Linked DNA regions of Homo sapiens. The protein of the gene in region 2 interacts with the protein of the main gene of each other region in a pairwise test. Each region holds a gene or a part of one and is shown on either strand. Other genes may lie near its edges.

What was found.
Region 1: the proteins of POU6F2 (region 2) and HNF1B interact in binary tests that used the Homo sapiens proteins (3 or more experiments, as listed by UniProt).
Region 3: the proteins of POU6F2 (region 2) and CIB3 interact in binary tests that used the Homo sapiens proteins (3 or more experiments, as listed by UniProt).
Region 4: the proteins of POU6F2 (region 2) and RAD23B interact in binary tests that used the Homo sapiens proteins (3 or more experiments, as listed by UniProt).
Region 5: the proteins of POU6F2 (region 2) and STRA8 interact in binary tests that used the Homo sapiens proteins (3 or more experiments, as listed by UniProt).
Region 6: the proteins of POU6F2 (region 2) and VEZF1 interact in binary tests that used the Homo sapiens proteins (3 or more experiments, as listed by UniProt).
Region 7: the proteins of POU6F2 (region 2) and EIF4EBP1 interact in binary tests that used the Homo sapiens proteins (3 or more experiments, as listed by UniProt).

The regions. Positions count from the first base shown.
Region 1 is NC_000017.11:37,685,739-37,690,121, forward strand, and holds the end of HNF1B (hepatocyte nuclear factor 1-beta), read right to left. Parts: intron 1,655-4,383; coding exon 1,634-1,654; coding exon of another isoform or gene 1,542-1,633; 3' UTR 693-1,541; downstream 1-692. UniProt on the Homo sapiens protein: Transcription factor that binds to the inverted palindrome 5'-GTTAATNATTAAC-3'. Binds to the FPC element in the cAMP regulatory unit of the PLAU gene. Transcriptional activity is increased by coactivator PCBD1.
Region 2 is NC_000007.14:39,340,760-39,345,142, forward strand, and holds part of POU6F2 (POU domain, class 6, transcription factor 2), read left to right. Parts: intron 1-4,383. UniProt on the Homo sapiens protein: Probable transcription factor likely to be involved in early steps in the differentiation of amacrine and ganglion cells. Recognizes and binds to the DNA sequence 5'-ATGCAAAT-3'. Isoform 1 does not bind DNA.
Region 3 is NC_000019.10:16,170,394-16,175,505, forward strand, and holds the start of CIB3 (calcium and integrin-binding family member 3), read right to left. Parts: upstream 3,133-5,112; 5' UTR 3,083-3,132; coding exon 3,032-3,082; intron 2,804-3,031; coding exon 2,769-2,803; intron 1-2,768. UniProt on the Homo sapiens protein: Acts a an auxiliary subunit of the sensory mechanoelectrical transduction (MET) channel in hair cells. Plays a role in regulating hair cell MET channel localization and function.
Region 4 is NC_000009.12:107,299,591-107,303,973, reverse strand, and holds part of RAD23B (UV excision repair protein RAD23 homolog B), read right to left. Parts: intron 3,834-4,383; coding exon 3,752-3,833; intron 1,940-3,751; coding exon 1,860-1,939; intron 1-1,859. UniProt on the Homo sapiens protein: Multiubiquitin chain receptor involved in modulation of proteasomal degradation. Binds to polyubiquitin chains.
Region 5 is NC_000007.14:135,246,676-135,251,058, reverse strand, and holds part of STRA8 (stimulated by retinoic acid gene 8 protein homolog), read right to left. Parts: coding exon 4,357-4,383; intron 1-4,356. UniProt on the Homo sapiens protein: Meiosis-inducer required for the transition into meiosis for both female and male germ cells.
Region 6 is NC_000017.11:57,974,311-57,978,693, forward strand, and holds part of VEZF1 (vascular endothelial zinc finger 1), read right to left. Parts: intron 591-4,383; coding exon 163-590; 3' UTR 1-162. UniProt on the Homo sapiens protein: Possible transcription factor. Specifically binds to the CT/GC-rich region of the interleukin-3 promoter and mediates tax transactivation of IL-3.
Region 7 is NC_000008.11:38,054,349-38,058,397, reverse strand, and holds part of EIF4EBP1 (eukaryotic translation initiation factor 4E-binding protein 1), read right to left. Parts: intron 1,318-4,049; coding exon 1,138-1,317; intron 1-1,137. UniProt on the Homo sapiens protein: Repressor of translation initiation that regulates EIF4E activity by preventing its assembly into the eIF4F complex: hypophosphorylated form competes with EIF4G1/EIF4G3 and strongly binds to EIF4E, leading to repress translation.

The DNA.
Region 1 (4,383 bases), on a different chromosome or scaffold from region 2:
AACCACAGGGCAGTAGGCCTATGCTGTTTGGCAAAAAAGGAAACAGCAAAGAAGACAGGTCCATCCTCCTTTCTTCTGGAGTCAGCACTGAATTATTTGTGGTAAAGTCCCTGCTGGTGGAGTCTCTGGGCCTTTGGCTTTTTACTGTTTGGACTATTTGTATTCCTTAGCATCCCCACCAGAGAGAGAATCTTGGGCAAGAGGTGACGTCCACAAGAGCCCATTCACTTAGTGACTGAGAGCTGTAAGGGAAGGAAAAGGAGGGCAGGAAGAAAGGCTGGAATTAATGCTTTAAATGAGGCTAAACAATTTACCCGCAGAGTTTTCATTCATCCTACTTTTTGTCTGTTTCTATCACATGTCACCCACCAAGAATTGACTCTATGACTTTACCCCTGTGAGTTGCAGGGAAGAAAAGGGTGCTAGCTCCTGCTCTGGCCAGATTCCCTCTGAGCGACTTGTGGAGTCTTACTGGGGGATTCAACTCTTCTTCACCTCAATCAGCAGTAAAGCCTACACAGACACTGGGAGCATGACGGCAAGAGAAGGCCACCCACCTCTCTACACCCCTAGATGACACACTACAGGATCCCAGTGGAGTATACAGAAAATTCCAAGGAGACCAGGGGCCAGGGGTTCTCGGTGGAACCATGGCAGGGAAAGTATCAGAGACAGAAATATGAGACTCTGGGTAGTGATAAAATAAATTGTTTTAATGGAAGGCTTTCTGAGACTGCAACTTTTTCTTCTGCTATCAAACAGCCAGTTTCCCTGCCCTGGGGTTTCTTAGGGAGTGCACGGCTGAGCTCCTGGCCCACAGGAAGCTGGCATGTTACTCTGACACACTACATTCAGCCCCTCCAGGGATCCAGAGGTGTGTCTTAATGTCAGGAGACTGGAGTTAGCTGGTAGTCAGTCCAAGGTATGCTGTCCCCATAAGTGTCCAGGCCCGCGGGAGAGGACAAGGGGCTTCACTTCCCACTTAGGATGTTTCTCCATGAGGGGAGAGGGGACAGATCACTTTTGAAATTTTGACTCTGACCTTTACAAAGAAAACTAATAGACACTTTAGTATTATATACAGGGCAGAGGGGAGAGGACACAGAGGGGAAATTGCACTTAATTACAGTAGTTTATAGTTTACAGCCATTGGACAAATTTACTTCTTTAAAAGAAATCTCAAGATCATTTGGGATGGGGGCAGGGGAGGGAGTCTGTGGATATTTACAGTGTGTTTGGCTCAGTTCAATAGCACATGTCCTTCTCTCCTCATTTCAGTAACAGATTCAAGTTTTCGCATCAGTTTGTTCGATGAAGGATCACAACATAGACAGTACGGCTTTCTTGCTTCCTCTTCGGAGGTTCCTTGTCTCCCACCTCCAGGACAGACAGGAGTCCTTGACATCGTGGGAGAGGCATTGTGGCAATACTGCATAGAAGGGAAACTGGGCTTCGGGCTGCGCCTCCTGAGAGTGGATTGTCTGAGGTGCCAGCAGGACGTCCGTCAGGTAAGCAGGGACCTCTCGCAGGTGCTGGTCAGGTCACTGGGCTTTTCCATGACAGCTGCCCAGAGGGTGATGGTGTGGAAAACAGGGTCCTTGTTGTTGCGCACGAAGTAAGTGGTGTGTGGGCATCACCAGGCTTGTAGAGGACACTGCAGAGAGAGAGGAGAGAGGGTGCTCAGCTGTGTCATTTGGCAGGGTCATGGGCCATTAGTTTGGCTTCTCTAAGGGAGATGATGCCCAACTCAACCAGCAAAGAGCAGCAGGTGGAGGGCTGGGGGCCTCGTGTCTGCTCAGTTCTGCAGTTTTCATGCTGAGGCACACTTCCTGCAGGAAAACCCGGGAGCCGGCTTTCCTGGCCACTTCAGAAGAAAGAAGTGAATTGCTGGGGACCTTGAAGTAGTCTTAACTTGCTGACCTGAATCCTGAAGCTGGGCTCCTCTTTCTGTGACAGTGGCATTTATAGAGTGCTTAGTGTACTTGAAAAGGCAGCTGGATGGTGAGCTCTTGCCTCTCGTGGAAGCAAGGGTCTCTTCCTAAGACCGCTAAGAGCAGAGGCCTCCTATACTAATGCTTCTCGAACTTTAACGGACCCACAAGTACCAGAGAGCCTGTGAAAATGTGGATTCTGGTTTAATTCTGACTTGTAGGCCTGGGGTGCACCTAAGAGTCTGCATTTCTAACAAGTTCCCAGGGTGTGCCAGTGCTGCTCACCTAGGGCAGCAAGGCCAGAAAGCACACGAGAAAATGACCACTCAAACTACTCATCAGGAAGGAGCTTTGCAAATTGCAAAGTGCTTTCTACGGGTTTCTTACTTTAGCATAAGAAACTCAGAGGACCAGGGAAAGGATCCAAAGGCTGAAGGCCTCTGATGCCATCCTTGTGGGTGGGCCAGGGCAGGAGACCCCAGAATGGCTGGAGAAGCCCTCGAGAGAAGCCACCTCACCCAACTCAGGGCAGCCTTGCCCTCCAGTGCCTGGGCCTTATTCATTTGAACTGTCATGGAGTGTCACTGCTTTCCTTTTCACTTCTGGGGAGTCTCTTTTTGTCTCCCTGTGTCTCCTCCTTCCCTTTTGCTTTTGCCGGCATCTAAGGTTCTGCCTTTGACTTAGTGGCTTATTCTCTCAAGATCCCCCCAAACACACACACACACACACACACACACACACACACACACACACTTACACCTACCAATACCACTAAAGGCCACTGTTATCGCATTGATCAGTGCTCCAACCATAACCCTATATGAGGATACCATTATGTCTATTTGACAAATTAGGAAAACAAGGCTAAAAGAGAGTCAGTGAATTGTCCATGGTTTAAGAACTAGGAGAGTGTGGAGCCACAGCTTCAAACTAGCTGTCTAGGTGGCCACTCAGCATGTGCTCTTTCAATCATGCTTGGAGGTGAGGAGCCTTCTACTAAGCTTTGTGCTCTTGGACAAGTTACTCTCTCTGTGCCTCAGTTTCTTCCCCTATAATATGGGAGTTGTTGTGTGATTAGATGAGTCAACACCTGTGGAGTCCTGAGCATGGTCCTTGGCACAATTGTTATTATTAACATGGGGTTCTTCGGCCCAAGCCCCTGCTGCTCCTCAGTACTCTTAAGAGTGGGGCTGAAGGCCTGGCGCAGTGCCTCACGCCTGTAATCCCAGCACTTTGAGAGGCCAAGGCAGGTGGATCACAAGGTCAGGAGATCGAGATCAGCCTGGCCAACATAGTGAAACCACATCCCTACTAAAAATACAAAAATTAGCTGGGCATGGTGGTGCACACCTGTAGTCCCAGCTACTTGAGAGGCTGAGGCAAGAGAATCGTTTGAACCCAGGAGGCGGAGGTTGTGGTGAGCCGATATTATGCTACTGCACTCCAGCCTGGGCGACAGAGCAAGACTTGGTCTCACAAAAAAAAAAAAAAAAAAAAAAAAGAGGGGGGCTGAGCAGTGCGTGCATGTGAGGAGACAGGCTTCTGACCCTTCCACATTCTTGAGACGTTGGTCAGGGTCCTCTGATACCCTTTGCCTCCTCTTCCTCCCCTGGCCCACCCCCACTCTCAAGTCTCTTTACTTCCCACTATCAGCCTTTTTCCAATTTTCAGATTTCAGGTGGAGGAGAGAGAAAACGGCTTGTGACCTTGCAGGTTTCAAAAGAAGAGCAAACAAGAAGGGCAGATAAGGAGACGCCAGTGAGATTCTATGGCCTGTCATTAGGGATGGGCTTCCCAGCTATCAAATGTTTGCTCACATAATAAAATGGTGGCAGAGCCCAAAATGTTGTCAAAAGAACTAGAGTTATTTGCCTCCTTCAGAGTCTAAACACAAACATCTGATAAGGGGTGCACTGTGGTCCCTTAGAACTGGAGGCCCAGCACACGCAGCCCCACGGGGGCCTGGCCCAGAAGATCTCTGAGAGACCGCGGGGCCCTCCGTCTGAAAGGTGTGGTAGCTGTGGCAAATGTGAAGGACATCCTTATTCTAAGAGGATTTGTTACATAATGGTAAGAGCTAACATTTATCGACATCCTACTGTGTGCCAGGCACCATACCAAGGGCTTCACAAGCATCACTGCCTCGAGTTCTTACGTCGACCCTTTGAAGTAGGTGATTATCGTGAATTCATTTAACACGTTTGAGTGCCTACTGTGTACTTGGCACTTTTTTAGACACTGGAGATGCAGCTGTAAACAACACCCTGCCCACTTCTTCACAGGCTTTACCTCCTAGTGAAGGCTTTGAATAATAAACAAGTAAACAAATGCGTGCACACACACACACACACACACACACACACACACACACTACAACTTTAGGTGGAGATGAGCACTCCATAGAAAAATAAGCATAGAGGTTAGGGCAGCTTGAGGAAAAAGAGATTAACTT
Region 2 (4,383 bases):
TATATATATATATATGACTTTAAACTTCAGAAAACCATTTTTAACTTAGGTGTCTTTAAAATAAATTAGCTTCAAAACATAATGACTGTGATGTCATCATATCAGATCCAGAAATTAATAACTCAGCCAAGCCATCCATTCTTTGACTTGCACAATGACATTTTTCCCTGTGAGATTTCAGACAATCTCGTGTATTTGTAGTACTGTGACAAAGTTAAACAGAGTGAGCAGCCTGTGGACCTGTTTCAAGTGCCATCTCATCCCCTTGCCATAGTGGTGGGTATAAACCTCAGTCAGTCCGGCTCTCCCCAGCCTGAGAATGACAGTAGCGATGGTATCCTTGGCTCCTAAATAGAAAAGTATACAAAATAAAGACAGGTTGGTACACGGACAGAAAGGCAGGTGGATTAGAGACTTGGTATTTTAGAACTTAGTTTGTTGTCCCATAGCTTTGTCTCTTCCAATTTGGATTCTCAGTGGTGTGGCCCAAAGCATTCCTAGAAATGAACACATTTGGGAGAGATGAGTCATTGTGTTTTTCTGGGCTCTTGGGCCAGGGCTACTTTCAATTTGAACATTTTCATGAGTGGAGTTTCAAGATGTATTTATACAATTCTTACGATGGTGAGACAACGTAACACCTTTGACCTAGGACTAAAATGAACATGGTCCAAAAACGTCTTCATTGTCCACTTGACACCTACTGAAAGAGCAGGTGTCATCAAATTTACAGAAGGCATGATTACAGCAACCTTAATGTTGGCAGCATTTGGGATTCAACTTTATTATTCCAAAAAATTAATTTAATGCTTTTTAAGAACACTTACATTAGATGTACCTATATACCATCTAATTTCTCTATTCCAGGCACCAAAATAGGTAAAATTACCAAAGAAAAATATTGCCCTTCCTTGAGGAGTGAAATTACTTAGGTGTGTCCCCAGTTGTCCGATATAGTCCAGTATTCCTTCCTGTTAGGTGAAAGTTTTGAGCTCTGTGGACCTCAGCCTTCCCTGAACACTGTCAGTGTTTTATAAATTTCTGTTGGCCAGTGAGATCCCAGTGAAGACAAGCCCTGTTGAATGACTGTTGACAGGACTTTAGATGAAGTGACCACGCAGCCTCATGAAAATAAACTTAGGGGAATTTCCGAAAGTTCTCCTAACAGTTTCTCGTGGAAATCCCAGGGCTGTTTGTTTTGTTTTGGTTTTGCAACAAATGAAGGCTCAGAGCTACATTTCTTTCTTTGTAACACTGAGAGAATATTCTAATTTTTCATTTTTGAAGTTTTAACTTATAAACTTAATAAATATGTTTAGAGTACATTTAAATATAGAGGAGCTGTTACTCTAACTTCTGTGGATCTAACAGATGACCACCAAATGAGTGACTTGCTACAAATTTTTTTTAAAACATTACTGAGAAGATGTTAAACAAATCTGTGTCGGTAGGCATAAAAGGACTTTTTTCCTTTACTACAGGCATGTATAAAGGAAATAGAGAATATTTTGGTTTAAAAAAAATTTTTACACTAGCTGCAGGCTTTTTGAGTTTGTGGAACATGGAATGTTTGAACTTTTTAAAAAGAAAACTGTTTAAAAGGAATTGCAAAGATATTTAACTCTCCAAACTAATGATCTTTATAAAGTGTTTTTGTTTGAAGATTATTAAGGGAATAAAGATCAACTAAATTCATGTATGATAGCCTAAATTTTATTTTACAACCCTTTATTTTCATGTGGGCTTTATCTTTTTACATTATTCAAAAATCTGCTGGAGAGATATTAGTTTAGAACTATGCAATGTAGATTACCAGGGAAAGCCAGTCAATTAGGTTTTTTGCTTTAAAAACAAAACTTTGGAGGACAACAATTATTTCTAAAACTGTGCAGATGCTCCCATATCTTTAGAAAAAAATAAATGTAAGTAGGTTGTGTGTTATATTTGGGTGAGGTCATTTCCTGAGATGAAAAAAAATTAATAGTGTTGGTAGGTAGTAACACTCTAAACAAAAATTATCCAAATACCTCGTATCAGGCTTTTCTGCAATATTGCAGTGTAATTTTATTTTACTCTTTTACTGAATTCTGTGAAAAGGATTACATTTACAAAACCAAGTTGTTTTAAGATAGATAGGAGTCTAAAGTATTATCCTTTCAGAGACGCACAGGTAGGGGGATCACTTTGTTTATTAATTTTGATCACTCAGCATTATAGGAGGTCTGGTGGTCTAAAGCAGACTCTAGAAGCTGCCCCTGGAGATCTGTCTATAGATTCTCCATTGAGACTCAGGACCCACCCACCCATGGCTTCGTTCTTGCCCAGGAGGCTTGAGGAGAGAAGTTCTAGACAGGAAATGCAAGGGCAGAGGTCTTCAGGGCCTAGCAGTCCCTGTAAATAAGTAAAGTAATCTTGGTTGTAGAACCCAAAATCAAATTTATAAAAACAGTGTGTGGGACAAACAAGATGCACTGTGAGCTGAATTTAGTCCTTGGGTGCCAGGATGGAGAGCAGTCCATACTCCTTATTTTTGCTCAAACCCACAGTCCACAGGCTGTGCCTGAATCTAAAACTAAAAATATAGACTGTGTTTGATAGAAGCAGAAACATAAATGGAAGCAATCTTTTGGGGCAAAAAACATGATCTAGGTAAAAAAAAAAAAAAAATTCAATACGTAATTTTAATCTGGATAGAGACCCCATAAGCATAAGAATGGTGAAATAAAAGCCTCCTTTCTATGACCTTTAAGAAGAATTTTCTTGAAAAGAAAACTCCTTGGGAGTTTTTATTTGCACTGGTAAAATTTCAGACATCTTATAAAAGCCCTATTGTGCACATATTCCCTCTTGAGTGGTCTGGAGATATGCTGGGCATGGTTGGAGCCCAGTCATGGTGTAGGTGGAAGAGGGTAACCGGAGGGCTTGAGTCCCCCTTCTAGTTCTGACCCTGCCTCCAACTAACTCATAACTTTGGATAGGTCACTTTAGCTCTCTGGACTTCATTTCCCTCATCCGTGTGGTCTGAGGTCTTTTTCAGGCCTATGAATCTATAATCTCAATGTTAGTAGGCCTCTGGAATTTTATTGGCTATTGAAAACTTGATGGTCCTGAAGATTCTCTGAGTATTCTTCAAGGTCAGGTTAATTTCTTCCCACTCAGCTGGGTGGCAGAGTGAAAAGAGAGTGGAGGACAAACATAAGTGGGATAATGATAGCAGAAGCAGATTTTATCTTAGCCAGAGAGTCCAAATTAAAGTCAAGTTTTTATCCTCAGAGAGTCACTGCTATAAGCTCTGGTCCCAGATTGCTTTTCCACACCTATACATTAGAGAAGCTTAAGAAACCAAATGCTGCATTTAACCTTGGCCTCCCACGTACCATCTTGCATGGCAGGACGCAGGATAATCTTTTCCTTTTCTTGTTCTATTGCACATTTTAATAAATAACAGAGGGAGAGAGAGATCAGTAGGAATTGGACAGTGAAAACTATCTGTGCTTATATGAGGAATGAGGGGCACGGTCACCTCCTCGGAGGTGAAGTTGCTTGAGAGCGTGAAATGTATTCTCAACCATGTGCATTTGCTAATGGAAAGGTCTAGTTACCACTCAGGCACAGCAGAGTAAAACTGCATCGGAATCCCACCTCTGTTGCGCAGTGGGCATTGCCTTCTGGTCTTCCCATTTGAGATATTTTCCCACTGGCAAACTTAGTACTAAGTTCCAAAGTGCATACATAATGGGAGAAGGTGGTACATTATCACTTTTTAAAATAAAGAGCCCAAAGCCTTGGGAAGGAGCTAGACCTACGGGACTTTCAAGTTCTCTAAAGCAAATGGTCTCCAATCATGGGTCTGCCCTATGGAAAAGACCCAGTGTCCTAGGCCAAACCCCCTCCCCCCCCAGCAATTAGTCTTAATCGGTTTACCACAATATTACTCAAGGCTCTGTGGGACTAGGTTTGTTTTTTCATCTATAAAAGGGAGGGGGTAAAATTAAATACTTTCTAGAACTCCTTCAGTTCCATTGGAGTTTTATGTTACAAACCCCTAAAACTGTGTAGAGTTGGGTGACTCTGTGGGTGTATTCATATAACTCCTTTGTGTGGCTACTGTAAATATAGAACTCAGACATCTCTCTACCTACACAGGGCTAAATCACTACGCAGAATTCTCCTAGCCAGGACTGAGATGATGGTGAGGCTTGGAAGCACTCATCTCAGATGCAGAATTTAAGGGTGTACTCAAAAATTCAGATAATGTTTGAATGAAATATTTTCAAAAATCAAAATGAACGCCAAAAGTCTATGAACAACAAAATTTCAAATTTTTAAATGCAGGATCAGTAACAGTATTGAGCCATATTGGAGTCTGAGGCAAAAGAAAAA
Region 3 (5,112 bases), on a different chromosome or scaffold from region 2:
CTTATGGCCAGATCACAGCAAGCATTCAGAGAATCCTATATAATCCACACATCTCTGGATATTGTCATGTTATCAGCAAGACCCTGCCTCCAAAGATACCTTCACTTTCATACCTTCCCTTCCTCTCCTTATAATGGGAGGAAGAGGCCGGATGCAGCGGCTCATGCCTGTAATCCCAGTACTTTGGGAGGCCGAGGCGGGTGGATCACCAGAGGTCAGGAGTTCGAGACTAGCCTGGCCAACATGGTGAAACCCCATCTCTACTGAAAATACAAAAAATTAGCTGGGCGTGGTGACGGGCACCTGTAATCCCAACTACTCGGGAGGCCGAGGCAGGAGAATCACTTGAACCTGGGAGCTGGAGGTTGCAGTGAGCTGAGATCGTGTCACTGCACTCCAGCCTGGGCAACAAGAACGAGACTCTGTCTCAAAAAAAAAAAAGAAAAGAAAAAAGAAAGAAAGAGGCCGGGCGCGGTGGCTCACGCCTGTAATTCCAGCACTTTGAGAGGCCGAGGCAGGTGGATCACGAGGACAGGAGATCAAGACCATCCTGGCTAACATGGTGAAACCCCGTCTCCACTAAAAATATAAAAATTTAGCCAGGCGTGGTGGTGGGCGCCTGTAGTCCCAGCTACTCCGGAGGCTGAGGCAGGACAATGGTGTGAACCCGGGAGGCGCAGCATGCAGTGAACCGAGATCAAGCCAGTGCACTCCAGCCTGGGCAACAGAATGAGACTCGGTCTCAATAAAAAAAATAAATAAATAAAAAATAAAAAAGAAAGAAAGAAAAGAAGAAAGAAAGAAAAAAAAGGAGGGATTCCTCAATGGGGCAGAGCAGAGACAAACAGCTAATAGTCACATTTTTTCTAAAGGGCAGACAAAAGATATTTTGCAAATAACTGAATACCACACACACTATCCAGATTATAAGGCCAGTTCTCCACTCAGAAGCCCTCACCTGTGACACCATACCTTCATTAGGGCATGCTGAGCAGCAGCCTTGCAGAGACCATCCTTGGTGGGTCTGAGGTCCCCAAGCTGCTAGGGACTGTCTCTGAGAGAGACATGAGTCCCTAGGTCATATGATGACTAGGAACTCAATGAAGGTGGGGTGGGGAGACCTAGAACTTTCATCCTGACCACTCAGTTCCCTGTCGGGGTCCCATCAGGGAATACCCTGGGTTTAGGTTTCTGTGTGGCTCTGAGCATGTTCCTCTCCTCTCCCTCTCTGTGCCTTGGTTATTCTATCTGATAAGCAAGAAGCTTGGGACAGACAAAATGTCTGTCCTTGGGGCCTTGGGGCTCTGTGCATTTACCCTTCAGCCTGGGATCAGCCCCGCCCTGTCTGAGCCTCAGTTTCCCCATCAGTAATTTGATCGTGATGGCCGAGGTGACCCTGCAAGCTGTCCTCACCCAAACAATGGGGCTCACTAGTAAAAGGTGTGGCCATCAATAATGGATGTCCTGTTACTACACAACTGGGGCCTTGGCCCCGATCACACTGCAGCTGAACCCTGGCCAGCTTGGGTTTCATAGCTCCAAGTTCATGGGTCGGGGCCCCTGGGCAATGGCCCCACAGGCCGAGTGATGATGTGGGATACTCATCTGTGCCCATCGTGCTGGGTCACGCCAGGGACCTGCAGCAGCCTTGGGCCACCTCCTCACACCCTCATCTTAATGCCAAGCCCACAACCCAGACTGGGCTCTGGACTTTGCACCTGGGCTCCCAGCCTCAAGTCCCAGTCTCAGGAGAATCTTTATCTTTCATTTTGTTTTTCTGAGGCAGAGTCTAGCTCTGTCACCCAGGCTGGAGCACAGTGGCGTGATCTCGGCTCACTGCAACCTCCACCTCCCAGGTTCAAGCAATTCTCCTGCCTCAGCCTCTTGAGTAGCTGGGATTACAGGCACCCACCACCTCGCCCAGCTGATTTTTGTATTATTAGCAGAGATGGGGTTTCACCATGTTGGCCAGGCTGATCTTAAACTCCTGACCTCAGGTGATCCACCCACCTTGTCCTCCCAAAGTGCTGGGATTACAGGCATGAGCCACCGCGCCCAGCCTCAGGAGAATCTTTCTAACGTGCTGATGGTCTCTCCCCTGCTCATGCATGCTCCATAGCTCCCTGCCACCCTTGGGAGAAAGCCCAAGCTCATCAGCCTAGAGACTGGGACAGTATGACAAGATGTGACTTGTCAGCTTCTCCATCTCTGCCTCTGTCCACTGACCACACCTGCCCCCCTTCCCCATTTGAGTCCCAACAAATTGGAAATACCAGTTGGGCATGGTGGCTCACACCTGTAATCCCAGCACTTTGGGAGGCTGAGGCAGGGGGATCGCTTGAGCCCAAGGGTTTAAGACCAGCCTGGGCAACATAGTGAGAGCCCCATCTCTATAAAAAAATACAAAAATGAGGTACATGTGGTGGCTCGCACCAGTGGTCCTAGCTACTCGAGAGGCTGAGGTGGGAGGATCACCTGACCTTGGGAGATCGAGCCTGCAATGAGCCATGATTGCACCACTGCACTCCAGCCCAGGCAATAGAGACAGACCCTGTCTCAAAAAAAAAGAAAAGAAGGAAGGAAGGAAGGAAGGGAGGGAGGGAGGGAGAGAGAGAGAGAAAAGAGAAAGAAAGAAAGAAAGACTACTTACACACACACACACACACACACACACACACACACACACACACACCAAATTGCAAATATCCTCCAGCAATGAATAGAAAGTTGTTTTTCCAGATCTTCTCTCCCTTCCTCCCTGGACTGACCTCATGATCTCCTTCCTTGTGAAAAATGTGCAGTCCTGTGGAGAGAGGTGTTGTCTTAACCCGAACCCTGCCTCTGGGGCCTCCTCCCACGGCCTCCTCCCTCCACCCCACACTCACACAGATGGCCTGATGCTGCCACACACAGAGCAGAACCAGGAACCCAGGCGGACGGTACACCCAGATGAAGGCATTCTGTTCCCATTTCCCAGACCACGGAACCAAAGTTGTCAAACCCACTGAGGACCCATCCTGCCCCCCTCTACCTGATACGCTTCCAGCTGCTCGTGTGTGAAGACTGTCTGCTTGTTGCCCATGGTGTGAACCACAGCCCAGACTTGGGGATGCACCCCAAAGGCTCCCAGCTTCCTCGGGGCCACACGGGTTGCCAGGCTGTTGTGTACCAGTGTCTGGGCAAATCTCCCTGCCCTGGCTGTCACCCACCCACCTACGCCATCACCCCCTGCTTGATGAGACTCAAATTACAGCCAGGCTCTCTGGACAACAGCCTGAATGTGTCCATGGGTAAGGATAAGGGCTGTGGGATGTCACAGAGAAGACCTCAGTGGGGAGGCCACATCTGCCACCACAAGGTGAGGCTGGGGTTATGGGGCACACTCAAGAGACAGGCAGGGTATACAGAAGGGCTATGGGCACACTGCAGCTCAAATCCCAGCTCTCTGCCCACTAGCTGTGTGGCCCTGGGCAAGTCACCTGACTTCTCTGAACCTCATTCATGAGATGAAAATTACATTATACCTACCTCATAGGGTCATTCTCAGGATCTGAGATTTAAAAAAAAAAAAAAAAGGTTTTGACTGGGCAAGGTGGCTCACACCTGTAATCCCAGCACTTTGGGAGGGCCAGGCAGGCGGATCACCTGAGGTCAGGAGTTCAAGACCAGCCTGGCCAACACGGCAAAACCCCATCTCTACTAAAAATACAAAAATTAGCTTGGCATTGTGACACATGCCTGTAATCCCAGCTACTCCAGAGACTGAGGCAGGAGAATTGCTTGAACCCAGGAGGTGGAGGTTGCAGTGAGCCGAGATCCCGCCATTGCACTCCAGACTGGGTGACAGAGTAAGACTCCATCTCCAAAAAAAAAAAAAAGGTTTTGGCTGGGCGAGGTGGCTCATACCTGTAATCCCAGCACTTTAGGAGGACAAAGCATGAGATTCACTTGAGGCCAGGAGTTCAAGATCAGCTTGGGCAGCATGGCAAGGCCCTATCTCTACTAAAAATACAAAAATTAGCTGGATGTGGTGGTGCATGCCTGTGGTCCCAGCTACTCAGGAGGCTGAGGTGGGAGGATTGCTTGAGCCCAGGAGTTTGAGGCTGCAGTGAGCCATGATTGCATCACTGCATTGGGAACATAATGGTGAACAAGCTAGATGAAGTTCTGGGGTGTGCATTGACATTATTATTTTATTACATTTTATTTTTTTGAGACAGTCTCACTCTGTTGCCCAGGCTGGAGTGCAGTGGTGTGATCTCGGTTCACTGCAATCTCTGCCTCCCAGGTTCAAGTGATTCTCCTGCCTCAGCATCCCAGGTAGCTGGGACCACAGGTGTCCACCATGCCAAGCTAATTTTTTTTGTATTTTTTTTTTTTGAGACGGAGTCTCGCTCTGTCACCCAGTCTAGGGTGCAGTGGCGTGATCTCGGCTCACTGCAAGCTCCACCTCCCGAGTTCAGGCCATTCTCCTGCCTCAGCCTCCCGAGTAGCTGGGATTATTACAGGCGCCCACCACCACGCCTGGCTAAGTTTTGTATTTTTAGTAGAGACAGAGTTTCACTATGTTGGCCAGGCTGGTCTCGAACTCCTGACCTCAGGTGATCCACCCGCCTCGGCCTCCCAAAGTGCTGGAATTACATGTGTGAGCCACCTCGCCCGGCCCAAAGGGCAGATCTAATGTAGCAGCTACCAACTTTATTAAGGCCCAGAATCCTCTTGGGTGGAGAATCTGAGAGTCTAAATTTCTTAGCCTGGCCCTCCATGCCCTTCTCACTTTGGGTCTCACCTGTGTTTTCTCTACCTGGCCTGGACTATTGCAATGTTTCCCAGCAGGCTTTCCTGCCTCGGCCTCATCAAGCATCCTCTGCCAAATCTGTGCAGTCATCTTGTAAAATGTGACCCTGATCAGGCTTGAAAGATGCCTCAAGGATGACTTTTTTTTTTTTTTGAGACAGGGTCTCACTCTGTCACCCAGGCTGGAGAGCAGTGATACAATCATGGCTCACTGCAGCGACCCTCCTTCCTCAGCCTCCCAGGTAGCTGGCACTAGAGGCACATGCTGCCACATCCGGCTAATTTTTTTTTTTTTGTATTTTTTGTGGAGACAGG
Region 4 (4,383 bases), on a different chromosome or scaffold from region 2:
TTTAAGGAAAAACAAAAGGACTGTATGCAATATAATGATAGGCTTCAAGTATCTATTCCTCAAACACACGCACCTATTGAGACTTTTTCTGCTTAATTCTTGTGTTCTAAACAGTCAGGATCACTGTAATATTAAAAGAAACTAAGACCAGTAACAAAACATATTTAAATGTGTGGCTATCACATTTCCCATTATGTACTATGTATGCTAAAACTAGATAGGAAAATAGGATAGTATTCAGTCTTAAAAGTTCAGCAAATTCTGGCACAAGCTATAACATAGACAGATGAACCTCAATGACATTATGCTAAGTGAAATAAGCCAGTCACAAAAAGACAAATACCATAGGATTCCACTTATATGATGGTGATAGCTGCAAAACAATGTAACTATAATGTTATTGAACTGTACACTTAAAATGATTAAACTGGAAGTTTGTTATATTTTACCACAGTTGAATAAAAAAACCTAGATGATACAAGGTTTCCTCACGATTCTGCTTGTTTTTAAACTTAACATATAATGACTTAAGTTCTTAAGTATAGCAAAATCAACATGGTTCTTAATGAATTAAAAAATGTTCAACACTTGTAAACTATTTAGCTGCTTGCTCCCAGTACAAAAGCATGTGGTAATTAGAATTTATTTCTTCGACTCTATTTTCTATTACTATTAACTATTTTGTGACTTTGAGAAAAAACCCACATTTAATCCACTTTTGGCCTTTGATGAAGTGGTTTCAATTAGTGATTTAAACTCATTTTCAGTGCTACAAGTAACACTGTTCTTTCTCAGATTATGACAATCCAATCCTAAAAATGAATGTCATGAGTACCACTTCTCCATTTGTCTCTTAATTCTACACTGCATTATATATCTTTAAATAAACAAGTATATAAATAGTCTCTTAAAAAAATCCATGTTCATTCTCTGCTTTAAAAAAAATTTAATTTTATAAATTGTTCCAAATACATTCCAGCCTACTAAATCACAAAAAAGTATCTGTTTAAAACTTCCAGGCTGGGCGCGGTGGCTCACGCCTGTAATCCCAGCACTTTGGGAGGCCGAGGCGGGCGGATCACGAGGTCAGGAAATCGAGACCATCCTGGCTAACACGGTGAAACCCTGTCTCTACTAAAAATACAAAAAAATTAGCCGGGCGTGGTGGCATGCGCCTGTAGTCCCAGCTACTAGGGAGGCTGAGGCAGGAGAATGGCATGAACCCGGGAGACAGAGCTTGTAGTGAGCCAAGACAGCGTCACTGCGCTCCAGCCTGGGCAACAGAGCGAGACTCCGTCTCAAAAAAAAAAAAACAAAACAAAAACAAAAAAAACTTCCTCATAAAAATCATTCCATCATTTCTTTAGTTATCTTTTCCCTTTTTTTAGTTTCTAAAAACATATTCTTTCACTAAGAACTATCACTGTAATAATAAGCTTTCATGCCTTTTCTGTCTTGAGGAATCTGTTAGGACTAGTACGTAATTTAGCAGGTCTATTTAAGGCAAGCTTACAAAAACTACAGAATAAACATTTATTCCACTTATAAAGACATTTTAAAAGAATTATATAATGATTTCACTACTGTAGCAAAAATAATTTTAACATGACATTTTATTTTTCAATTGTTTTAATTTACATAAAATTTTATTAAAACTATATTATAGTTTAATGTGTAATTAATGTAAAACATTAATAACTTTATGTTTCACTTAAGGTAAATTCTTAAAAACCTTTCATAGTAGTTAAGTGTACACCACTATGGATGTGTATAAACTGTGTCCATTGTGTGGACTTGTGATCATCATTTTTAAAAAGACCTACATGCATAAAGATATACAGAATGAGGTTGAAACTTACTTTGGTCACCATAACCACCACAAAGTTTTTCTCATCAATTTTATATTCTTTGAGAGCAGTATCATCATTGAGGATTTTGCCTAATACATTAAGAGAAAAAAAAATCATTTAAGGCATAATCTTTCTCTTACACTTCAGTTAAAACAACTTTCTACTCGAAATATGAATATTTCAGAAATATTAAAATATGAATCACCAACATAAATTCTATCAGTTAATACTTTTCCCAAAGAAAAACCAATCAATCAAGATAAAAATAAAACAACTCCTAAGTGGCAGGGCATGGTGGCTCACACCTGTAATCCCAACACTTTGGTAGGCTGAGGAGGAAATATAGCTTGAGGCCAGGAGTTTGAAACCAGCATGGCCAACATAGCAAGACCCTGTTTATGAAAAAAAAAAATTCAAAATTAGCCAGGCATTGTGGCACATGCCTATGGTCCTAGCTACTTGGGAGGCTGAGGCAGGAGGATCACCTGAGCTCAGGAGTTCAAGGATACAGCGAGTATAATCACACCACTGCACTCCAGCTTGGGTGACAGAGCAAGACCCTCTCTCAAACAAATAAAACTAAAAAGCATAAGCATTTGACTAAAAGATGTCAAACTTATATAGTGTATATAGAATGACAATCAATTTTTACAAATGTATTGATTATATAAAAGACTTACTGGGCAAGGAAATATGAAAGAGGCCCTGAAAAGGAGGAGATCATGAAGATAAAGAAAATTCAATACTCCGATTGCACAGGGGTCCTCTGGAAAATAACCTATATTCTTTTATGATATGAAGAAAGGGAGAGAAACAAATTTCCTGCTCCCCAAAATACTGATATCTGATAAATCAGAAATGTTCTAACACTATCAAAGCAAGATACTAAAAGTACTTCAGAAAACGACATGATACACAAGAAAGGGCAAGATGCTACAGAACTTAGAAATGCACGAAGTACACAAAACTGTGGTCGTGCTGAAGGTCACTATTAGGTAGCTAGGACTCTCTAGTGTTTCTTGCTACATGAATTTAGTTTTCCACCTTTAAAAAGCTATTGAATCAAAAGCTGCTAACATTAAGTCAGAAAGGAATATGGATAGGAATGAGAAAACAGGCCAAAACAAGAAACTGGAAATTTGAATTTTATGTCCGCTTCTTTAGGCTTCTGAATTCTGACCTATAAAAATAATGGGACTGAATCACCAGGTTAGCATTTCCTCCAGGCTGTCTCACTTTAGGAAACACTATTCAGAAAAAGAGAAGAATCCATGGGTGATCAAACACCCACCTTACTAACATCTACAATGAAAGCATTTTCTCTAAAAATTTGGATATCAAATGTATTTTTAATATACATTTTCCTGGTTATTAGTGAGGCTAGTCAAATGTATAATTCCTACTCTTATCCTTTGTTGCTTTATTGGTCATCCTTTCCTTACTGATTTCTAAGAATTCTTTACATAATCTGAATATTAATTTTTTTTCTTCCTGTAGGTGTCTGTGTGATGTGTTTTTTCTGTACTCTTCAGTTAGTTTTGGTTAAAATAATTTTACAGGAATGATTCCAAGCATACTAATAATAACACAATCAGTATAAATGGTTTCAATTCAATTTAAAAAAAAAAGCTCCGTTTGATTAAAAAAACAAAAGCCAGTTACACGATGCTTACAAAAGATAAAACAAAACTAATACCATTTGATGGAAAAATACACAGGGCAAATGTGAATAAAGAGAAGATTGAATATTAATATTAGATTCAAATGACTGCTCTTTCACTGCTTTTATTTGTACAATCATTTTTCTGACAATTTGAATATACTACAATATATAAGATAACATTTCTAAAACTAAAAGAATATCAAGACATGGCATGTTAATTTTAATATTTAATTCATACCTGCATAAATTAATTTTTGACCTGCTACTGGAAAGGCATCTTTCCCCTTTTCAGATTCAATCTTCTCTTTCAGTGCTTTCACCTATAGGAAAAATAAAGATTTGTTTTGGAAAAAGTCTAAATAAAAAATGACAATCCAGAATCTGAATAAATAATGGAAGACAAAAATTATATACATAATTATTAATGTTTCCAAAACCTCAAATATTATGTTTTTCCAATTTATATCAAAAAAGATTCAACATTAACTCATATTACTAGTTATGATAGCCATAAACTTTAACACCATCTGATACACACAGATTTTTAAAAATTTACTAGTTGAACTGATAATTTAAAATAAAGTTTTCAACATCAAAGTTTTGGTTTATATACTGTTCATGGGTTTATTTCCCACGGAGCAAGAAAGTAAAGCTTGATCACCTAAAAAATCTAAGAAATAAAACAGTCTCATCAACAATAAGAATACTTCAATGTTAAAGGTTAAATTGTGAATGTTAAAAGGCAAATGATTCATTTTAAGTGTTATGTTTCATTACAATCACCAGGGGGACTTTACAAACACCAATTAAAACATAATCTCTGAGAGTGGGACCTTGACATCAGTATTTTTAAAAAGTTTTACAGGTGTT
Region 5 (4,383 bases), about 96 Mb from region 2:
AATTACTGAGAAACAATCCCACCCAGATATCCATTGTTGACACATTGATCTAATTCTCTCCAGTCACTTCCCTAGGTCTATAATATATATTTCCAATTTGGAATCTTGCTATTTAGACAGTTTTTCATCCTGCTTCCCCCTAATGTGTTAGAGAATATTAAATATGTTACAGAAACATGATTTACACTTACATGACTGCCAGATTTAGCAAATACAAATACGGGATGCCTAGTTACATTTTGAATTTCAGATAAAGAATGAATAATTTTTAGTATAAGAATGTTTTGAATCATGCATGGGACGTTTTTGTATTAAAAATTGAACTGGGCATGCTTTACTTTAACTGACATCTCCTTTGCACTGGCAATCACGCCTAGGAGAGGAGAGGAAGTTCTCTGACCCTGAGTTGGCAGGTACTGGCAGGTTCCGCCAGGGTCTCTCCTCTCCTCTTCCCTTCCTGCAACACACAGCTCTTCCAAGAGGATTGGTGTCTGCCCTTTCTGTCTTCCTTCAATTGACTTCCTGGAACTGAATCCCTTGGGACTCTGGCCCCTCTCTTAGTTTTCCGGACATTTTCTGTTGTCCTTCTACTTGATATCTCTGTGGTCATTTCAAAGAGGATCTGGAAAGGGGCCACAGAAAGACCTGTGCTTCAGTGTCCATCAGCTCTGAAGCCTATCAGCTACATGTTGCTCCCTGGCAGGCCTGAAACAGGGACCCAGAACTGAAATCCCTGTCCTTAAGCAATCAGCCCACCAAAGTCGCAGGCCACACATTGTGCTCACCTGTGCAAATCCCCCTCACAAGCCAGCCTGAGAGGGGACCCCAGACCAGGCTCCACAGCCTTTCCAGAGTGCCACCACACTCACAGGGAAGCTCATGTCTGAACTGAAATGGAGCATTCCAGAGCCTCCTGGGCCCATCTGACCGTGCTGCTGGCCTCTAACACAACAGTTCTGCAGCAGAACCTCTCCAGGTGGACCAGGGGCTGCAGTGGTGTCACTGCTCAGCAGGAGTAACTGTGGCTTTGTCCCTGCCTCGGGCATGGGAGTTCTCTGTTCTGCCTACCTTATCGCCCAGCCCTGGCCTGGCCTAAACCTGGGCACAGCAGTGCAGGCAGAGCCCTGCTTCTGGCCACAGCTGAGGGAATCTGCTGCCAGCTTCCCTTAATACCCAACAAACATCAGCCCATAGGCCTCCCTGAAAAACCCAGAAAAGCTGTTTCCATGATTTGGAGACATTAGATTCTGGTTGTTTTCTCTTTGGATGTGTTCTTCCTGGGGAAGTGTTCGTGCTGGCACAGTCAAATTTGGCAGAATTGCTCAGGCATTTGGTAGATACTGTCATGCATCACTTACTGATGGGGATAAGTTCTGAGAAATGTGTCCTTAGGCAACTTTGTCATGTGAACATCACAGAGTGTATTTATGCAAACCTAGATGGCATATATACATATATTTATCTTTTCTTTTTTGAGACAGAGTTTTACTCTTGTCACCCAGGCTGGAGTGCAATGGTGTGATCTCGGCTCACTGCAACCTCCACCTCCCAGGTTCAAGCGATTATCCTGCCTCAGCCTCCAGAGTAGCTGGGGTTACAGGCACTCGCCACCACGCCCAGCTAATTTTTGTATTTTTAGTAAAGATGGTGTTTCACCATTTTGGCCAGGCTGGTCTTGAACTCCTGACCTCAGATGATCCACCCACCTTGGCCTCCCAAAATGCTGGAATTACAGACTGGCATCACCACGCCCAGCCCATATATTTATTTATATATATTTTTTCATATGGAAAACCAAAAATCCAAGTTCCATTACTGAATATCAATTATTTACCCTACTTGATGTGCAATGCCAATATCGAGTGCCATATATCAGGTTTCCATATATGCTCCATTATCATCTTATGTGACCACCATTGTATAGGTGGTCTGTTGTTGCCCAAAACATCTTTATGTAGCCCATGACTGTATTTTCCTTTCGTTTTCTTCATGTGAGACTCCAGGGCTTGGCACTTTGGGGCTGTAAACACATCTGTTTGGCTGCCCTTTCATACAAGCCTTGGGTATGAGGTCCTAATCTTCTGGCTTTTTTTGAGCCATCATGGAACAGAACGCATGTCTTCTCATGGTGGACCCAACATCAGAGGAAAACCAGATCAGAAGCCACAGTCTGGTGGACCCATGTTCGGGGGTCGGGGAAAGGACCAAGGCAGTAGCTGGTAGGCCATTGAACATCTGCACTGGGAGTTCCCTCCAATAGGACCTACTGCACTAGCCACGAGGGAAGCTTGTTAAAAATGCAATTCCTGAGGCCCCACCCTCAGAGGCTCTGATTCAGTGTGTCTGGGATAGATAGAGTCTTGCTGTGTTGCCAGGCTGGAGTGCAGTGACACAATCATAGCTCACTGCAGCCTTGACCTCCTGGGGTCAAAGGATCCTCCTGCCTCAGCCTCCTGAGTACCTGGGACTACAGGTGTACCACCACCACACCTTTTTATTTTTTTTTAGTTTTTAGTAGAGACGCAGTCTCACTGTGTTGCCCAGGCTGGTCTCAAACTCCTGGGCTCAAGCATTGCTCCCACCTTGCTCGGCCTCCCCAAGTGCTGGGATTACAGGTGTGAGCCACTGCGCCCAGCCAGGCACCTGACTTTAAAAAAAAACTCCACAGGTGATTCAGTTGAGAAGCATCAGGGGAGATAATGGAGGGTTGACCATCAACAGGTGACCAAAGGGCAGAGTAATGTGAAAAAATGTGTGATGACAGAGACACAGTCACTGAAGCAGGAGCTGGGAGTTCTGGGCAAGTCACACTGCTGGTTAGGCCTGCAAACTGGAAGGACAGGAATGGGTGACATCTCTGTCGTTCTCCAGGCTTGGGCCTGATAGCTGAGGAACCTTCTAAAAAACGGAGGCATTCCAGGGCTGTAACTCCAGGGTCAGAGACAATCGGACGCTCTCTGGCCCTAAGGCTCCACAGAGAGACTCTGGGAAACTAGCATGTCGTCTCCTCAAAGGCGCCCCGACTGAGGAGCATTTGGAAAGTCAGGGCAAGGGGGTGGCCTGTATCAGGCGGAAGCCATGGATGCTAAATGTCCACGAAGCACAGGGCATGTGCAGAATGCGAATCGGCTGCGCCTGGGCTAGAGGAGCGAGCGTGGGCCGTGTGGTAGAGCAGTGTTCTGAGGCCGTCCTCATACTGGAAGAGCAGCTGTGGGCCCACTTTTATCTCCGTGCAGGGCGACCTCAAATGCTACCTGATGCTCTGCTTTGCAGACTATGGCCACGGCCATTCTGACTAGCGTTCTGAAAGCTGAGAAATGCATTTACGGTAGCAGTTGTGGTAACCTCCCCTTCACAGAGCGATCCCAGTGCTCTTTGGGGTGGGAACTGACGGCCTTTCAAGGGCTGGACCTGATTGGTCCAAGTGTGATTCCCTCTATGGCCAGTCATTGGCTCAGCAGGCTGGCAATTTGGCCAGTTCCAACCAATGAGAGGGGAGGAGCGGTTCCGGAAAAGTTCTTCCTTAACTCTTAAGAAAGAGCTTTCGTAGGAAATCTTTGTCTTACCTGATGTAGAGTAGGAAGAAAGACAGTTCGATTGCTCTAGCTGCCATTCCATAGCCACAGGAGCCGGAGGAGGTGGGGAGGGCAGGGAAAGATAAGAAACTGAGCAGAGCCAAGAGAGGCCTGAATCCACGCGGACATGGTGAGCTCCTCTGCCTGCCTCGGACCTCCCCGGGTGTGAGGAGTGCATTTCTTCGTGGTTTAATAATCCAGGCCCTGGCAGCCCAAAGAATCCCAACTGAGACAACCTCTCAAGACTTGTCTTCTGCCATCCCCAGGGAAAGGCCAGGAAACTAACCGCAGAAAAACAAATACTGTTCCGTGACCCCAGGGATTAGAAAATCAGAAACCGGCCGGGCGCGGTGGCTCACGCCTGTAATCCCAGCACTTCGGAAGGCCGAGGCGGGTGGATCACGAGGTAAGGAGATCGAGACCATCCTGGCTAACACAGTGAAACCCCGTCTCTACTAAAAATACAAAAAAATTAGCCGGGCGTGGTGGCGGGCGCCTGTAGTCCCAGCTATTCGGGAGGCTGAGGCAGGAGAATGAGGTGAACCCGGGAGCCAGAGCTTGCAGTGAGCCGAGATCGCGCCACTGCACTCCAGCCTGGGCGACAGAGCGAGACTCCGTCTCAAAAAAAAAAAAAAGAGAAAAAAGAAAATCAGAAACCGACCTTGGGAGCCAGAAGGCAAACTGCACCTCCAACCTGCTAAATGCAAAGCCCTGGTGTCCCCAGGCGAGGGCGAGGGTGGTTCCCGTGCCCCATCCACGCCACCCCGGTGGGCCTGCTCACCTCCTCGGGCGTGGAGACCAGCGAGCA
Region 6 (4,383 bases), on a different chromosome or scaffold from region 2:
TTGAATAATCCCAGCCAAATTGGAGAAAAATGCTACCACACTCTTATTAACTAATGTAATAAAATCTCCCAATTTCATGGTTTACTTTTTGCTTTAATCAACTAAAAGTTAAGTTGCTGGTAAATATTTACTTTTACCCATATTTTGATTTTATAATACTGTTTACCAAGGCGGTGATGTAGGCAAAGCTTGGGGCAAGAAAGGCATGCTCTCTACAGGTCTCATTGCTATATTGAGAGGGGCGGCTAATGTCATAGGTGTGGGTAGATTCATTGGAGATGTGATGGTGACAGGGTGTGCTATATTCACTGGGGCAGTGACGGGGGTGGGGAGGTTGACTGGGGTAGTGAGTGTTAAAGGAGAGGTCATGGATAATGGACTGGTTATAGTTACAGGATGCCCTATGTTCATTGGGCTGGTTATGTTAACTGCACTTGAAACATTTACTGGACTTCTCATGCTCATTGCAGCTGCCACTGTGACTGGGTTTGACATAGTCCCAGACGACACAGAGGATGTTATACTGAATGGAGTAGTGAGAGTCACAGGTGTCGTAGCAGCCGTGGAGGTTTGGCACAGGTTAGCAGCTTCTAAAATAAGAAGAAAAAGGGTCTTTAGATTCTCAAAACAGTGAGCAAAATTCACAAAGTTTCTGAATCAATTTCTTTTCATTAAAAATGTCAAACATTTAATAAATCAAATTCCAGTTTTCTATCAAGCGGTCAACAGAACAGAGGATCTTTCTGAGCACAAGCCTGGGGGCCAGGGATCCCAGTGTATGAATCACCTTCTGATGCTATACCTCCTGCAAGGACTTAAGCAACTTGTTTAGCCTTGCACTTTAGGTTTCAAGTTCAGATTTACTTACCTACCTCACAGTGATGCTGAGAGGATCAGTTAACTTCTGCAATGCAGGGCTAAGTGTTCTCACTACTACTTCATGCAGTTCCTCTGAGTTCTAAAAACTTTCTTGGGAAGAGCCAACCTCCAGCAGGCCAGGCTAAAGAGCTTGTTTACACAGAGCTGGGCCAATGGTTACACAATAACAGATAATCAGAAAAATCTTCTCGTAAGGCACACTGTAACTAGCAGAGAGAGGTGTGCATACTCAATAAGTATGTTAAAGCCTGAGACATGAAGCCACATTCTGTGAAGGTTTTAAAAATGCATAATTGGGGAATGATAAACAAGCTATTTTAGTATCATGTTTGTTTCAGTTTTAGAAATATGTTTCAGTTAAATAATCTTATTCTTTCTGGTTATGTTTCTTAACTACATTAGGAAAGAAAAAAATACTCCTCAATAAGTTCATGTTCTCCTCACTCCCATTTCTTCTTGTTTCTGATGTTGACACAATCACCTATTTTATGCCTAGTATCTTTAACTCTACATATTACACATACCACCAAGCATACCAAAGAGAACTAGCTAGGCAAGGAGACCCTGCAGTGAGTTAGAGGACCCTGGTCCTTCTTATCCAACAAAACCTGGACACTTTTTTTTCTGAGACAGGGTCTCCTTCTGTTGCTCAGGCTGGAGTGCAGTAGCATGATCAAAGCTTACTGCAGCCTCAAACCCTCAAGGCTCAAGCAATCCTCCCACTTTAGTCTACCAAGTAGCTGGGACTACAGGTGCATGCCATCACGCCCAGCTAATTTTTGTGTTTTTTGTAGAGACTGGGTTTCGCCACGTTGCCCAGGCTGGTCTCCTCCTAGGCTCAAGCGATCCGTCCACCTCAGCCTCCCAAAGTGCTGGGATTAAGGTGTGAGCCAGGTCTAGACACTTCTTAAAAAATACTTCCCCTCAAGGTGACATCCCCAACCCACCCCTCAACAAAATTCAGCACCAGAAAACAGCAGTAAAATGATGGGTAGGCTAGCTGTGACTTGGCTATCAAAATGGAGAAATATACTTGAACTAAAGATAGAGATCTGTATATGATCCACAAAGGTCTTATCACCGCAGGGGGACCCTTGAGTCAAGCAGCCCTTACTTGATCAATACAATGTAACTTTGGCACACACCATTCTCCCTATCAGGGATTCCCAAATCTGGCTGATTATCAAAATCAACTATCTAGAGGACTTCAAAACAAACAAACAAACAAACAAAAAAAACCCAACAAAACAAAAACAAAGGACTCCAGGAGAATCAATAGTGAAATTTAGATGGAACTTGGGAAATGTGTATTTTTAAAAAGCTTCCCAGACAATATGATTGTCGATCAGGTTTGAAAACTTATGTTACCTTATTTAGGCCTAATATTTAAAGGACGTTATAGATTCAAGCTTAGATTTTCAGGTCAGGAGTCTCCTCTCCTCTAAAATGTGACATTTACTAACATGAATACAGAGGTTTCTAAGATCAGTGGTCTTTTTGAGAGAGATTCACGCTACAAATGGGAATACAATAACATTTTGTTTCATGGAAGTCAGAAGATGAGCTAAACAACCAAGTCTTATTGTGCAAGCAAATTGAAATACAATACCAAATAGAGGAGTACACCGAGAGAGATTGAGAGAGAAAACCAATTCACTTTAAGGTGCTGGGAGTATTGCTGAGGATATTCTCCACCTGCTTTCACCAAAGAATTTTTACTCTCTTATCTGCTGACCCCCTTACCTCCTCCTCCGTGTTTTCTTTTTAATCTAAGAGTGTCCTTTTACTATGACTTAAACATTTTTACTCCTTCTCTAAGTAAAATACCCTTCATAATATACTTTCAACCCACTATACAATTATCACAGCACTACACTTTTTCCTCCCCATTGCCCGTCCCCTCTCCCCATTCTAACACAAAAGTTCATTTGTTTTGTTTTTTTTGAGATGGGGGTCTCAATCTGTTGTCCAGGCTGGAGTGCAGTGATGCAATTGTAGCTCACTGCAGCCTCAAACTCCTGGGTTCAAGTGACCCTCCCACCTTAGCTTCCTGAGTAGCGGGGACTACAGACACGCACTGTCACGTCCGGCTAATTTTTTGTTGTTGTTGTTGTTTTTGTAGAGATGGGGTCTTGCCATCTTGCCCAGGCTGGTCTCAAACTCCTGGCCTCAAGTGATCCTCCCACCTTGGCCTCCTGAAGTGCTGGAATTATAGGTGTGAGCCATCACACCTGGCCAAAACATTTTATTAAAATAATGACAAATCTTCAGATGGAAGCTAGGAACAAGCAGCACCTGAGGAATGATGAAAAGCCTATACGGACTGCTGCATTCTTTTCTTCCAATGCCAGTAAATGTATGAAAAAGAATGTCGCCAGGGCCCAGTAGCTCACGCCTATAATCCCAGTACTTTGGGAGGGTGAGGCGGGCAGATCACCTGAGGTCGGGAATTCGAGACCAGCCTGACCAACATGGAGAAACCCTGTCTCTACTAAAAATACAAAATTAGCTGGGCGCGGTGGCACATGCCTGTAATCCCAGCTACTCAGGAGGCTGAGGCAGGAGAATCGCTTGAACCTGGGAGGCGGAGGTTGTGGTGAGACAAGATCATGCCATTGCACTCCAGCCTGGGCAACAAGAGCAAAACTCCATCTCAAAAAAAGAAAAAAAAAAAAAAAGAATGCTATTCCTTTTATTTTTATCCAAGTATAGGAGGTTTAGAGATCACTCTGGCCAGGTGTGGTGACTCATGCCTGTAATCCCAGAACTTTAGGAGTCTGAGGCGGGTGGATCACTTGAGATCAGGAGTTCAAGACTAGCCTGGCCAACATGGCAAAACCCTGTCTCTAGTAAAAATACAAAAATTAGTCGGGTGTGGTGGCACACACCTGTCGTCCTGGCTACCCGGGAGGCTGAGGCACAAGAATCACTTGAACCCAGGAGGCGGAGGCTGCAGTGAGCCGAGATCACGCCACTGCACTCAAGCCTGAGCAACAGAGCGAGAGACTCTGTCTAAAAAAGAAAAAAAAAAAACAGAAGGGATCACTCTGAGGAAGGGAAGAGCCACACTACATGAAAGCAAAAGATGGAAGAAACTACACAGAAAAGGAATTACATACAGAGGAGCCCACAGATAGAGGATTCCTTAACATTTAACATAGTAAGACATTGTAGAGGTGGAGGAGGAAGAAGGAATTTACAAATCTGTCCTTTGGCTCATGATACATTGACAAAATGATTCATTTGAAATGGCTGCACAATAGTCCAGAAGCCAAAGCTGTACTAGTAAGTTGAAAAGTACGTTGAAAACTGATACTCCAACTGATTCGTTAGAAAATATACACGAGAGAAAAGCAAACCATTTAAAATTTTTTAAACAATTACAGTAAAGTCCTCAGCAGCAGAAGACTAGATATGTTAAGGCCAGCCAGTGATAGACTGAAGGAGATTAAGGGTGTGACCAAGAGAAAAGACATCAACACTACAGAATCTGAAACATGTAAT
Region 7 (4,049 bases), on a different chromosome or scaffold from region 2:
TGGGCTAGTTATCACAAGAGTGTTATAAAAAGGCAGCTTGGTTCTCTCTCATGTGCCCCTCTTGCCCTGTGATGCCTTCCGCCATGTTATGATGCAGCAGGAGGCCCTCACCAGAAGCCCAGCAGATGCGGGCACCATGCCCTTGGCCTTCCCAGCCTCTAGAACTGTAAGAAATAAACCATTTTTCTTCATAAATTACCCAGTCTCAGGTATTCAGTTACAGCCATAAAAAAACAGACTAAGACACAGGCAACTATTGTCTGTCTTGTACTGTGAGGTTCCCAAGGTAATTATGAATCATGTCCTGCAGGCCCTGGGGAGATTAATTCTGCTGCTGTTAGCAGAGCCAGCCAAGCTGAGGTCCCTGCTGCTTCCTGTCTGGGCCTGGGGTACGGCCTTCCGGGTGAAGGGTCGGCGGGTTCCAATCTGATTATAGTTGCCCGGAAGTGCTTATGCTGCATCATCTTGCAGCAGAGAACTCCAACACTCTGCCAAGCCAGTCAGGATGCCACAAAGAGTGCATTCACTTACACCACTACCACAGTGGCTGCTCTAATTACTCGGGAGGTGGGGACAGCAGGAAGGACCCAGCTACCAAATGTCAAATCGGCAGAGACAACTGGCTGCATTGTTTCTACCTGCCTTCATGAAGATCCACTAGGGGACCAACAGCCCAACAGGAGGCATCCCGGATGTATTTCTTATCTTGTAGACATATAATTTCCCAAAGGACAAGTACACTGTGTCTTTGATAACTTGTCTCTTGCACCACAAACATCATGGGTGTGTTCCAAGTGGAAATGCTTCAGAGACAATTATACAGAGGCACATGCTTACGAAAGTTGCTGTGTGCAGCCGCTGCCATTTCAAACAAACTCCCCGCTAATTACATGACCCAAAGGTGCCAGATCACCTTTCCTGAGGTGCCTGGGCCCCTTTCAGGGGGAAAGTTGCTACCAATGAAGAGTTCAACCTCCCCACCCCTACTCTCACCCTCTGGGCTCTGAGCTGCTCCTTAGAGGGTAGGGCAGAGTCCCTGTTGTTCCTCCTCCCTGGAATTGCCCCCAGTGGATGGACTCCAGGAGCCTCATACATTCCCTTTCCCAAGGTAGAGCCTGGCCAAGCCCCGACACTCACCGCCCGCCCGCTTATCTTCTGGGCTATTGCGCAGGTGGCTCTGGCTGGCTTCCATGGGGGGCTCATCACTGGAAGGGCTGGTGACCCCCGGAATGGTGGGCAGATCCCTTGGGGGTGTTTTGGTCACAGGTGAGTTCCGACACTCCATCAGGAATTTCCGGTCATAGATGATCCTGGTACCTAGAAGGGAACAGGGAGGTTGGTCAAGCCATCTGCAGCCTCTTGCCTGCCGGTTTTTCCACTTTTTAAAGGCGTGGCTGCAGTAGAGGCAGCAGATTCTCCTGAAAAACCCAGAGGAGGCTGGGTGCGGTGGCTCATGCCCATAATCCCAGCACTTTGGGAGACCAACATGGGTGGATCACCTGAGGTCAGGAGTTCGAGACCAGCCTGGCTAACATGGTGAAACCCCGTCTCTACTAAAAATACAAAAATTAGCCAGCGTGGTGGTGGTAGCCTGTAATCCCAGCTACTCAGGAGGCTGGGGCAGGAGAATCACTTGAACCTGGGAGGCAGAGGTTGCAGTGAGCCGATTGCACCACTGTACACCAGCCTGGGTAACAGAGCGAGACTCCTTTTCATAAAAAAAAAAAAAAAAAAGCCAGAGTAGTGAGGCTTATTTGGGGGCCTGGCTGCCACCCAGAACTCTGCTACCTCCAAACGGCCCCAACTCCCCTTCACATGGAATGATCCAATGGAAGGGGTCTGCAGGCCACCAACTGCACCTGTGTCTTCCCAGAGCTCTGTGCACACTGTGCTCTGTCCCTATAGCCCCTCAGCTCACTCACCCACCTGGGCTTAGTGTTAATTACCCATGACAATCACATACCACGGTGGAAAAAATGCATTTCTAGTCATTATTCAGTCCTGTCCTTACAGCACTCCTGTGGGATACCCAGAATAGCTGCATTTTACAAATGACCAAACAGAAAATACTTGTGATTCAACCAGAGTAGTAAAAATAAGAACTTTTGCCAGGTGTGGTAGCTCACACCTGTAATCTCAGCACTTTGGGAGGCCACCGTGGGAGGACTGCTTGAGCCCAGGAGCTTGAGACTAGCCTGGACAACTTAGAGAGACCTCATCTCTACAAAAATGTTAAAATGAGTCGGGCATGATGGGTACGTGCCTGTAGTCCCAGCTACTCGGGAAGCTGAGACGGGAGGATTGCTTGAGCCCAGGAGGTCCAGGCTGCAGTGAGACCCTATCTCAAAAAGACAGTTCCAAAAAAAAAAGAGAGAAATGCCTGGGCTTTGCGGAGAAGAGCCAGAGGCAGGAGTGAAGGGTGGGCTCTCCTGCTGAGCCCCTCCTTTGTGAGGCCCCCAGTGTGTCCTGCCAGTGTGTCACTGACCTTGGAATTCTACCCCACCATCCCAAGTAGCTGGGATTATAGGTGCGTGCCACCATGCCCAGCTAATTTTTTGTATCTTTAGTAGAGACGGGATTTCACCATGTTGGCCAGGCTGGTCTCAAACTCTTGACCTCGTGATCTGCCTGCCTCGGCCTCCCAAAGTGCTGGGATTACAGGTGTGAGCCACCGTGCCCGGCCCCTTTGTATCTTTTTATAGCTACCTTCTATTTATGGCAAGTGAATCCGGTGTTCCATATATAGTAGTGATAGCAATTCCTTTTAATATACAATAATATAATAATATATTATAGATTCTATAATAAAATAATGTAAATTAAATTCAAAAGCTAAGGTGATATAAAGAAATATTAAATATCTGTACAAGTGGAATGCAAGGTATGGTAATAATTGTGCAGATAAAATATGAATAACCCAAGTTTGGGAATCATGATTTAAGGACTTCAGGAATGCCCTTCCTTAGCAATAACCTTGAAATCTCTCCTTCACTTAGGGGCTATGATGAGTAGCATTCCAACAGCTGAGATTCATTTCTTACACTTTATTTTACTTTTTTGATTTTTAATTTTTATGGATCCATAATAGTTGTACATATTGAGATTCATTTCTTGATGCTCAGCACTGGACTCTGTAAACCCCTGGAAAGGAACCAATTTCCATCTCGGAGTCTGAGTGTGAGTTCCTGAAACGGGGCTCTGTGCTGAGGATGACGTGAGATGCTGAAGGGCAGAGGAATGCAGAGAGATACCTAAAGATAAACTTCACCTGCTGGCTGTGTTCCTCTAGTCTGGCTGTGGCCCCTCCAGGCAGTCACTGGTCTTACTCTCCTGTCCCCTTGCAGGAGAGGCAGTGATACTGAAGCTGACAGCCCTGCTCATTGCCTATGGGACTCCAGCGCACAGCTGTTTCTTAGGAGGAGGGGTGTAAAGAACCAGGGTGCATTTGGGCTCCGTTCCCAGTCAGCTGTGTGACCCTATGCACCTTGCTCCTTGCACCCCCTGTTTTGGGCCTCCATCTCCTCATCTGTAAAATAAAGACCCATGCACCTTCTAGGTCTGAGTGCCTATGAGCCCAGATTACAAATGGAGAGCAGTGGTGCCCTCTCTTTGCAGGGCTGGGGTGACAGTGAGGGGAGGTAAGGGAAGACCAATTTCTAACTCTTTTTTTTAAAAAGTGACCCAGATTTGTTTTGGTTCTAGAGGCCAGATGTGGCACTGCTCCACTCTGCAAGGCTTGGGGTTGTACAATCTCTCCTCCCCAGAGGGGAGGGAAGCCCAGAGACCCCAGGGTCCAGGCAGCGGGGTGGGGACTCAGTGGACAAGTGGCTGGACATCCTGGCTCCAGATGGGACCACTTTTTTTCTGTTGTTTCTTAATCTTTGAGACTCGGCAAGAGTGCCCCCCTTCTTGTTTCCCCCCAACTTTGCTTTTTGTTTGTTTGTTTTGAGATGGAGTCTTGCTCTGTCACCCAGGCTGGAATGCAGTGGCACAATCTTGGCTCACTGCAATCTCTGCCTCCTGGGTTCTAGCAATCCTCCCGCCTCAGC